Regions from separate parts of the Homo sapiens genome. Here region 1 is linked to region 2. The links come from fine-mapping of genetic effects on plasma protein levels. Region 2 holds a variant in brackets. A gene starts in the other region. All regions are shown on their forward strands.

What was found. PIP is the posterior inclusion probability: the model's chance that the variant is causal. The UK Biobank Pharma Proteomics Project read protein levels with antibody pairs (Olink). The fine-mapping took linkage between variants from a reference panel, not from the people measured, so its PIPs are less certain.
Region 1: it holds the start of PNMA1, and the variant in region 2 is fine-mapped to the plasma level of the PNMA1 protein (UK Biobank, PIP 0.96).

The regions. Positions count from the first base shown.
Region 1 is chr14:73,711,895-73,717,273 of GRCh38, forward strand. It overlaps PNMA1 (PNMA family member 1), which reads right to left and starts at 2,490. Exons shown (of 1, transcript NM_006029.5): 1 at 1-2,490. The coding sequence starts at 1,745. The coding sequence ends at 684. It overlaps MIDEAS (mitotic deacetylase associated SANT domain protein), which reads right to left. Exons shown (of 13, transcript NM_001367710.1): 13 at 3,228-5,379. RefSeq lists enhancers at 1,886-1,945, 2,886-2,955 and silencers at 2,036-2,205, 2,386-2,665.
Region 2 is chr10:34,777,615-34,782,993 of GRCh38, forward strand. The region is part of intron 1 of PARD3 (par-3 family cell polarity regulator); the gene reads right to left. Among named protein-coding and RNA genes, the nearest start is that of PARD3, 35 kb to the right of the region's middle. RefSeq lists enhancers at 1,232-1,732, 1,733-2,233, 3,368-3,497, 3,708-3,767. The variant A/G (reference allele first, on the strand shown) is at 2,272.

The sequences.
Region 1 (5,379 bases), not on the chromosome of region 2:
GGTGCATATCAACCTCTCCATGCAATTTACATCTGTATCTTATGCAATGAGAAACTGGTTTACACAGCTCCGTAACTGCAGTATTTTTTAACACCCCATTTTGCAGTCTCAGAATACTTTTCAATTAAACTGGTCGACATGTTTAAAGATGAGAAATAAGATGTTTGCATTGTAAAGTTGAGTAATAGCTAATAAATGCACACTTCCTTCCATTAATATAAATCTGGAACAATTTATGGTAAACAAAAATCTATCCGCGTTATCAGTAATCTAACAGTGCATACTTTTACTGAACACTTCCTGTGAGCCAGGCCTCGTAGTAAACATCTGAACATGCAATTTCACATTCAGTGTGGAATAAGAAGTGTCATAGGTTCGCGTGTTTTTCACAACTGATTATGATGTCCATGATGACAGCGTGCACTAAGCGCTGTGTCCAACCAACCCTTTACCTGGCATTTTAGCCAGCAAGACCCGCTTGCATTGCAGTCGTTCACGGTGCTCGCTGGCACAATTTTAGAATGTTACATGAATACTCAGGCCTGACTAACCTTCCCCTCCAAAAAACAACAAAACAGAACAAGGCTAAGCCTTTACTACTCAGAGACACATCTGTAAGACCCCACAGGGACAAGAAAAGTAGCTGTGATCTAGGTCTGCACTAAAGCTGCCTTTCCTGGCACTCAGAAGTGCCCTTCCAGGCCTAACTGCAGAAGGGTGGCCTCAGCCTCCTCCTCCTCCTCCTTGGCTTCCTCCTCACGGATCTGCACCAGCAACTGAAAGAGGTTTGGGGCTGGCCCTTCCCCAGCCCCGGTAAGCCACAGCTGCCTTCGGATGGCCCCGCTGTGGTTGGCCCCGGCAATGACCTGCTCTAGGCGGGCCTGGTTCACATTATCTTTATCAATGGCCCCCTTCTCTACCACCTTCTGTAGCAGAGGCTCCAGACGAATGACATAAGCAGACAATTTTTCTCCCGGGTTCTGATAAGTGTTCAGAAATTTGATCTGGGCATCCCTAGAGCTCTCAACGCTCCCAAACACCTGCTCAAGCGCCTTCAGGCATTCGGCAGTGGTTATCGCGGGGTTGTTGGACTTAAGGATGCGAATAACATCAGCGGCGGGGCCTCTAAGACTCTCCATCAACCGCCGCCTCTTTTCTACATCGGACACCTGCCACTCCTCTAGGACCTCATTAGTGTGCTCCAGCCAGGGATCAAAGGTTTCCTCTCCAGGCCCTGGGATGTCCCTCCCCGAGAAAAGTGTCAGCCTCTTGTACCATATGGACTCAACAAGAGGCTGAATAACATTATCCAAAATATAGTTTAGCATCTCTGCTGGCATCTCTGGGCCCGGGGTCGGAGTAGGGTTCTGAAACCCAAGGACACGGGCAACATCTTGCACGGTCCACCCCTCTCTAGCTAGGAAGAGGTGCAATCTTTCTAAAAATTCAGCATCAGAAGTTGGGGGCTTAAATAACACTTTCCAGACCCCTCCTTTGCCCGGCATCTCCCTGGGGATCGCGGCGTAATCTACAGCGCCAGTGAGCTCTAATAAGGCTGCTTTCGCATTTTCTTCCCTCCAGAACATTCTCCCAAGCATTCGGTAGGAGACCTGGGGCATCGCAGCCTGGAGGGTCTCTTCGATTTCAGCCTCATCACAGTTCACTGGGATGCCCCAGACTAACAGAGCTCTCTGGGAGTTCACATCCATCCCCCGGCACCAGTCTTCCAACAGTGTCATCGCCATTTTCTCAACTATCAAGACGCCAAATTCTACCAACAGACTGTGGCTCACCGTGCTCCTGGCCTTAGAACAATACCAGACACTCCCACCAAGTAGGCCCGAGGGAGGCGACCTTCATGCAGTCACGATTAACAAAGACAGAGTCCTGATCTCGCCCTTCTCTGCCCCCACAGTCAGTCCGTAGGTGCACTCGGAGCCGAGCTCGGGGACGCTGAGGCAGTCACGCGGCCGTCGCCATCTTGCGTCTGGGTCTGGGTCCGGTCGGGTCCGCCGCCTGCAGCAGGGGCGTCGCGTCGTCGTGCAGCGGGCGAGGAGCGACGGCGGGCGGCGAAGGCAGGCGCGCTGGGCCGAGAGCCGCCGGGGTGTGGTCGCGGGGCGTGGCCGCCGGGCGCTCGCTGCGGCTCCTGGAGAGGATCGGGCGTTCGCGGTCGCAGCCTGGTCTTCCCGCGGGCGAGGAGCGGCCGTTTGGGAGACTAGCCAGAGGGAGAAACTGTGCCGAAGTCGCGGCGGCTGCGGGCCAGCGGAAAGCGGCTTCTTGGCGGGCGCGGGGACTCCTCTGGGCGGGCGGCGAGGACGGCCGAGGACCAGAAACGAAGGCAGCAGAGGAGCAGGAAAGTCGGAGAAGCGAGGCTGGAGACAGCAGAGGCGAGGGTGGGAAGGGGCGGCCGCGGCGGCCCGCAGCGGTTCAGGCGCTGCGCGGCTGCTCTGGCGTCCAGTCCTACCCGCAACCCGCCGCGACGTTACTGCTGCAGTGGAGGATGGGGCCAGCCGGCGAGCGGCGTCCGCCCCGCCCCGCCCCGTCCCGCCCCCGCGGCGGAGCTGCTCGGGCGTCTCCATGGCAACGGTGTCCCAGCCGGCGCGAGGCACGCCTGCTCCGGCGGCTCGCGGGGGTCGAGCGGTTGCCGTGGAGCCAGCGAGGGGCTCGGGCATTTGTTTCTCTGATGGCGCATTTCCTTTTTCATAATTTAGCATTTTAACAGTAAACAACTACTACTAAGCACCGTGTTTTAAAAATAATAACCCAATCCTGGAGTGGATTTAAGATGATATTGTTGGAAATGCATCCCTCATGGTGGACTTGTCTACTCGGGTTGCTCAGCCAGTCCACCCTGCACGTGAAAATACTCTCCTCAGAACCCTGGCTTCCCGTTGCCCCTGACCACACTGTGCACCCTGCATATTTCATCCCAATGAAGCCAAAATGTCGGAGTGCGCCATTTCTGTGTATTTGTGTGAGACACTGAGTTTAGACTTTTTCTTGTCTAAAATTTTGTAAAAATCTGTCTGTGTCTACTGAGTCATCTTTTAGCCAGGCAAACATTAGTGTATTATTTTCCTTTTCCTGGCTGGCATCATTGACAATAGGCTGCTAAAAGAGAATCCTTATGGTTCAAAAATGTCGAGTAATCTCCCTGCAAGCAAGACAAGGCGCACTTACATCAACCCCAGATGGTGAAAATCCCAAGAGAACAAAGCATTCAACTCTGAATTTTTAAAACCTTATTTAATAAAAGGTTTAAAGATACAGAAGAACATTCAAAAGTAAATAAGTTACATAGGTACATTACAATCACATCAGCAAGATTCTTTAGTGTATTAATTTTTTTCTTATAAAAAGCACACAAAAAATAAAATCTTCAGTCTCTATCACAACTGTACAGCAAAAGAGGTAATATTTATATATGTACACTATTTTAATATGTAACAGTCTTTTTAAAAAAGGATGCCACAGGCAGCAAACACACAAAAGGCAGTGTCTGATCATTTTTGTTTCAAAATAAAAGGAATATACTTATTTATATGCTATTAAAATATCTGTACAATAATTACAGACTGTCAAGGCTGTTCCTGTGCTCTGTCCCCTCCAACAAAGCCTTCAACTTAGAGACAAATGAGGAAAAAGTGAAACAGCTGCAAATTGTTAGAAGCAAATATTAACATAGCAAAATGTGGGGAGGACACAATTGTTTTATAAAAATATCCCTACTTCCTGTAAACCTATGGAGTTAGGCTTGCCAGTCTGATAATAAATACCGTCCCAGAAAAGCGAGCCCCAGTGAAAACAACTAAACAGGCTGAGGCTTGAGTATGTGTTGTATTCCTCCTTCATCTTAACATCTGGCACATGAGAAGAAAGAGGTTAGGTCACTGAGGCAGTTAAATATAGGTGATCCCTTTAGACATAAGCAGCAGAAGACCTTGGTGCCAGGGGTGGAGGCGCGGCAGAAGGGGTGGTATGTACCTTAGCTGTGAGGGGGGCTGCTGAAGGCATGGAGGACAGTAATGACGGCTGTGCCTCCTTGGATGGTGGAGACCTCAGAAATGGTCTGCAACACAGGCACTAGGTCAGTTTCCCGCCCTTAGCTGAATGCAGATGGATGCTGGGAGATGGATATGGTGAGATGGTGTGGGGAGGATGTTAGAAAGCTGGAGGTGTTTATCACTTCTCAAGGAGCTCTGAATATAGGGGGAAAAAAACAACAAAAAGACAAGCCCAGGGAGAAAGCACCATTAAGGATATACCTATGCCAGCTTCTATAGCTGCACCTGCTTTATTGGCAGGTCACTTGCCACAATTGCATCTGCCCTCTAAACTTTTTAATTTTCACACTGTATCCTAGACATGAATGCATAAAATACAGTGTCTGGCGGGATAATGCAGAGAGGTACCATCTTGATTTTCCCCAGTTACATTCACCTGGTCTGGTCTCTGTAAGCTTAGAAGAGTAGAATCACTTTATTTTTTAAAGACTTCCGGCCAGGCACGGTGGTTCACGCCTGTAATGCCAGCACTTTGGGAGGCCGAGGCGGGTGGACCACCTGAGGTCAGGAGTTCAAGACCAGCCTGGCCGACATGGCGAAACCCTGTCTCTACTAAAAAAAAAAATACAAAAAGATTAGCTGGGTGTGGTGGTGTGTGCCTATAATCCCAGCTACTCAGGAGGCTGAGGCAGGAGAATTCTTTTAACCCAAGAGGCGGAGGTTGCAGTGAGCCAAGATCACACCACTGCACTCCAGCCTGGGCGACAGAATGAGACTCTGTCTCAAAAAAAAAAAAAAAAAAAAAAAAAAATTTTTTTTCCAAGTACAAGATGTTACCACTGACAAAAGGGTCTCATATGAATGATGGAGGTTTCTGTTACCGTATGCCCATAAAGGGGCCTGAAACCAAATATGATTTGAATAGAAAAGACCTTGGGAAACATAAGTAGCACTTTGGGGCTAAGCTGCGAAGGCACTCGTATTGTACAAGTAATTTCGAAGAGAGCCTAAATTTGCTACCCCCCTGCTTCTACAGGGTATACCAGATTTTTGCTGTCTTGGGACACTGAGCTCATGGAAGCCTGTGGAGGAAACTAACCGGTAAGCTGGGGATCTAGGTAGTCATCCAAGAGTCTGGAGGGAGAAGAAATTTGTTACTTCCACAGCTGGGGTCCTGTAGAACCATACTAATGTACAAATGGATGCTGAAAAATACCTGCATAGTTTCAAAACAAAACTCCCTCTCCACTCCCAGTTACTGACATGATGCTTCTTGGCTATCTCATAAGGAGTAGCAGTATGAATACTTTCTGGCTCCTTCCTAATACGTTGACCTGTCATACGCGCATTCACTTAGAATTTCTTTTGCACAACT
Region 2 (5,379 bases):
CAAACTCTCAAGCTCAAGCAATCCTCCCACCTCAGCCTCCTGAGTAGCTGGAACTACAGGCATGCACTACAACAGTCAGCTAATTTTTTTTTTTTTTTAAGAGATGGGGGTTTTGCTTTGTTTCCCAGGCTGGTCTTGAACTCCTGGGCTCAAATGATCCTCCTGTCTCAGCCTCTCAAAGTGTTGGGATTACAGGTGTGAGCCACCTCACCCAGCCAAGCATTTGTTAATTAATCAACTGATTCCCTGAGGAATGATGGTGAGTCTAGGAAAGAGACCAGAAAATTAAGATGAGCACTGCCCTCCCTCCCGCAAGGAGGCCTTTGGGAAAGAGACTGCTGCCAAGTTACCACCACATCCACGGCTCTTGAGTTAGAGCTTTATCCTCCAGCAGCCTTCAGAGGTACCACTGTCCCTCCATATCCGTAATGGATTAGTTACAGGATCCCTGTGGATACCAAAATCCAAGGATGCTTAACTCCCTGACATGAAATGGCGCAGCATTTGCATATAACCTCTTGTATACTCTAAATCAGCTCTAAATCACTTATAGTACCTAATACAAACTCACTAAGCTCCAAGCCAATGTGTGTGGCTTTAGGCAAGACATTTAAGCTTGTGGTATCTCCAGGTATTCATCTGTAAATGGACAGGGGAAATAGGGAGGAAGGTTGCGGTCTGCTGGATTCTAAATCCCTCGGGCCAAGGACAGAAATGAGGCAAAGGCTGGTTCAAATCCACTTGTTTGGCAAGTAGTTGGCAATTTCACTGTGCTGCCTTAACCATCATGTTCTCAGCTTTAAGAACTGAGCATCATGAATGAAGGGGAACAGACTTCGTTTGTGTTGCTAAATGGCAAACATGAATTAACAAGGGGGAAAATGCAGCAACAATCAGGCCAACAGAGCATTTTCCAATAAGAAATGTTATTCCCTAGAATTGGCTGCCTTGAAAGGTGCCAAGTGCATGGCCACAGACAATATCCTCCAGCAGAGACATGGTGGAGGAAAATTTCTACACTGTTCAGAAGATCTACACATTTAGAAGGGACCTCTTAGGTTCCTTTCAACTCTAAATTCTATTTTATGAATTACATGACTAAGAAACTATATGTATGCTGAAAAGACTTAAGTGACAAATTATGTTTTTAATAACATTAAGAGCTTGCCAAAAAAAAGAGCTGGCTGTTTAAAATACCTGGTATGATTAAATAAATCTCATTTCACCTATCGTTTCCTTAACATGAGGTAGACCAGTATTTTTGTTCACAAAGGACTGACAAACAGCAGCTAACTGAGAAAGCTGTCAGATTCTGACTTAGAAAAATCTAGCATCCTTCAGCATACATAGTATATTTAGTTGTTCAGTATTAATATGTTTAAAGTTACAGTCACCATCCAAATAAACTAAAGCAGGCTGGGCACAGTGACTCATACCTGTAATCCCAGCACTTTGGGAGGCCGAGGTGGGCGGATCACTTGGGGTCAGGAGCTCAAGACCAGCCTGGCCAACATGGCGAAACCCTGTCTCTACTAAAAATACAAAAATTAGCCAGGTGGTGCACACCTGTAATCCCAGGTACTCGGGAGGCTGAGGCAGGAGAATCGCTTGAACCTGGGAGGTGAAGGCTGCAGTGAGCCAAGATCATGCCACTGCACTCCAGCCTGGGTGAAAGAGCTAGACTCCATCTCAAAAAATAAAATAAAATAAAGCAGCCGGGCGCGGTGGCTCACGCCTGTAATCCCAGCACTTTGGGAGGCCGAGGCCCAGCAGATCACGACATCAGGCGATCGAGACCATCCTGGCTAACACGGTGAAACCCCGTCTCCACTAAAAATAAAAAAAAAATTAAAAAAATTAGCCAGGCATGGTGGCGGGCTCCTGTAGTCCTAACTACTCGGGAGGCTGAGGCAGAAGAATGGCATGAACCCGGGAGGCAGAGCTTGCAGTGGGCCGAGATCACGCCACTGCACTCCAGCCTGGGCGACACAGCGTGACTCCATCTCAAAAATAAAATAAAATAAAGCAACTATGCAGATATCACCAGCTTTTAAATTTTCTTCAAGAAACCCTCTGAATTCAGTCCTTCTGTGAAGAAAGATGCATTACCTGACACACACAGGCAGGCAGTGGAAGACATTCATTAGCTAGAACATTTCAATAGCAAAGCATGCAAAACTGCAAATGCCATCTAGACAAGATCCATGCCTGGAGACATCCAACGTGGCACTTTCAAGGAGACGTGTCCATTTCAAAGTCCTATACACAGGC[A/G]AATTCCTTGGTGATTTTCTTGGGTCTGTCTTCTCTGAGTCCCTTCTAGCTGTAGATCTAAATGCTCGGAAGTAAACAATGACAGTAATGCCACCGAGTGGCACCTGAAATCAACTGTGACTCTCTACGATTCCCCATCCTATTCTACTTCCCTCCATCTTCTTCTTTCCCCGGAAGATGCATTACACCTTCTGGTAATCCCCATGGAAACTACTGTGAAGTCCATTTTAACTCTGCTTCTTTTGTATGAATGGTTTTAAAATTGCTGAGACTTATTTTATTAAAAAAATTAATTTGCTCTTGACACAACTAACTTCACAAACTAATCACCAAATACCTTCCTGGTTTTCCATTTCTACCTCCTGACCTGAATGCTCCTTACCATAGAGATGTGGAGAGCACTGGCTGTAAGTCCAAGTACTGGTTTACGGCAGATGTCTTGGAGATCTATCTCAATAGCCCTCTCAAAACACGTTTGTAATGATGTTGAATATAAAATAACAATTTACATAATAAGGTGCATAAGCACCTCCTTTGCACTATTAATAAATTTTTGTTGGCAATATTTTCTAGGGATAAACATCTAATTATTACAAGCCCATAATCAGAAAAATGTCTTATGAGCGTGACATTCAGGAATTATTTCTTGGAGGTCATCAGGAGTCACAATAGGAGGAAATCGTGCCCTGCTGTTAAAACTCTACCAGAATTCATTAATAAAAGCACTGCTCAGTAGAAATGTAGTCTTTGGTCTCCTGTCTATTTTATCCCCAGGGACAACAGTACGCCCTTTCTTTTCTCTTGCCGCAGTTTTTTACAGAAGCTGTATTTTTTATCATAAAAGGAGGGGAAGCTGCCATTCAAAATTGCTGTTATTTTCCTATTCTGTTTCTCTGGATAAAACAAGACTTCTAAACTAACAAAGGACAATAATCAGTGCGGAGGCAACATACGCTGAAATAAGGAAATGCTGAAAACTAACATTCACCACGCCACACATAAAAAGCAGCTGAAACTCAACGTGAAAGCTAAACCTCAAGATATGACTTCACACAGCTATAACGGGAAACATAAAAGCAACTTGGGATTTCCTCTATTTGAAGGGATGCATTTCCGCTTACTTTGTACTTTCCTTGAACTTGGAGCAGGACATCACTCTTGCATCCCACGCTTCTCAGCTCAGGCTCGGTATCCAAAAAAAGCTCTGTGCCTCTGGGGACCTGGGGCACCCCTCCCCCCTCTAGCCTGCTGGAGCACCCACATGTGCAGAGGCTCACACGAGCATAAATCAAGGGACATGGCTGACACTAAGCACTGCTGAGAGCCTGCACAGCTGCAGACGCTGCTCACAAGTAAAAGAGATACCCCTCTGCAGGAGGCAGCTGCGGTATTTCACTTGCCCCTCTGACCAGGACCCATGCAGTCCTTGGAAGAGCTGGGTGCTCCCTAGGGCAACTGGTATTTTCTGTCTGCTCTTTGGTCACTTCCCATTCTTTTTTACTGGTTTCTGGTGGTTTCCACATGTGGACAAATAGAGCATAATAAAGAGGTCTGCCAGATTTCAGCCTCCTTTCACAGATGAGGCTTGGTTTAAAAGGAAAATGAACGAAAGAAAACTTACAAAACCAACAGCCTGATGGTACTTTTAGGAAAAGGTTAGTATGGTTCTGTATGAATGGTAGGTGACAGCTGGATCTGATTCTCTAAATATACCAGGCCTTTTCCTACAAGACTTTATAATAACTTATTTGTTCTTAAATTCAGGTGGGGCCTCTGGGAGGAAAAGTTGAGTGCAGGAAAATAGAACAAAAATTAATTAACAGTTTCCAACTGTAACATGCTCAGCACTATACACAGAGTGTAAAAGATATAAAATATTGCCCCCGACCTAGAACACACAGTTCTGTGGGGTAAGACAGCCAAATGCCTGAACCAATGACAGAACACTGTGCTCTATCGGATAATCCAGACTGAACTGAATGGCCCAAAAATCACAAACATGCAGAGGGCAGTGGAAATGTTCTTGAACGTTTTAGACAAACAGAACTGTATAATTAATGGATTTTCCCCTTCACAGTACATAAACATTCTGAAAGGTAGTACCTAAATCTGGCACCTACTGAGAAATGCTGACACAGCTGCAATGATTTTTTAGATATTTTTAACTTGTAAAGAGAACAGAGTAAGGAAGTGCACTTTGACCCAATTTTAACCATCTGTAATTTTTTTCTTCCAATCATCCTAACTGGCTTCTAGACCCAAGTGCTAATTTGATTGCAAAAGGAAAGCTGCCAAGAAATTATGGAGGCCTGATTTAAGGACAGCATGTAACCTGAACACATTGCAGTCAAGCAGTGTGTATGAAGAGAGCTATACCTGTAAGGAAAGACTGAAGTTCTAAGACAGCAGAGGCAGAATCCAGCCTCCTCCACTGGGCGCTGGAGCAAAATTTTAGAAAGGTTACCCAGGGAATCTTGACAGGGGACTGCAACATGCTCAGAGGCAGCCAGAGGTGCTCAACCAGCCTTAGGGCACATCAAACAACCTCCAGTGAGAACTCTCCACCCTTCTTAATCCCAAAATGTTAAAATCAACTCCACATCCATTCTTTTTAAATAACTTTAATCCTCACAACGACATCAAAACATTTTAAGCACTATCCACTCCACTTTTGGCTGATCGAAAGACTTAACAGTAGACATTATTTCCTCTACACATAAAACACTGTTACCTCTACCCCAGCAACTTACGGAGATTAATTTTTCTCCCATCCCCACTCTACACCAACTTTATTCCAAGAAGGACTTAACGTGAGAATATACAAACATTAGGAAAGTTTTTTTTTTTTCTTTTTTTTTTGAGACTGAGTCTTGCTCTGTCACCCAGGCTAGAGTGTAGTGGCGTGATCTTGGCTCACTGCAGCCTCTGCCTCCCGGGTTCCAGCAATTCTCCTGCCCCAGCCTCCCAGGTAGCTGGGATTACAGGCATGCACCACTACACCCAGTTATTTTTGTATTTTTAGTAGAAACGGGTTTCACCATGTTGGCCAGGCTGGTCTCGAACTCCTGACCTCAGATGATCCACCTACCTCGACCTCTCAAAGTGCTA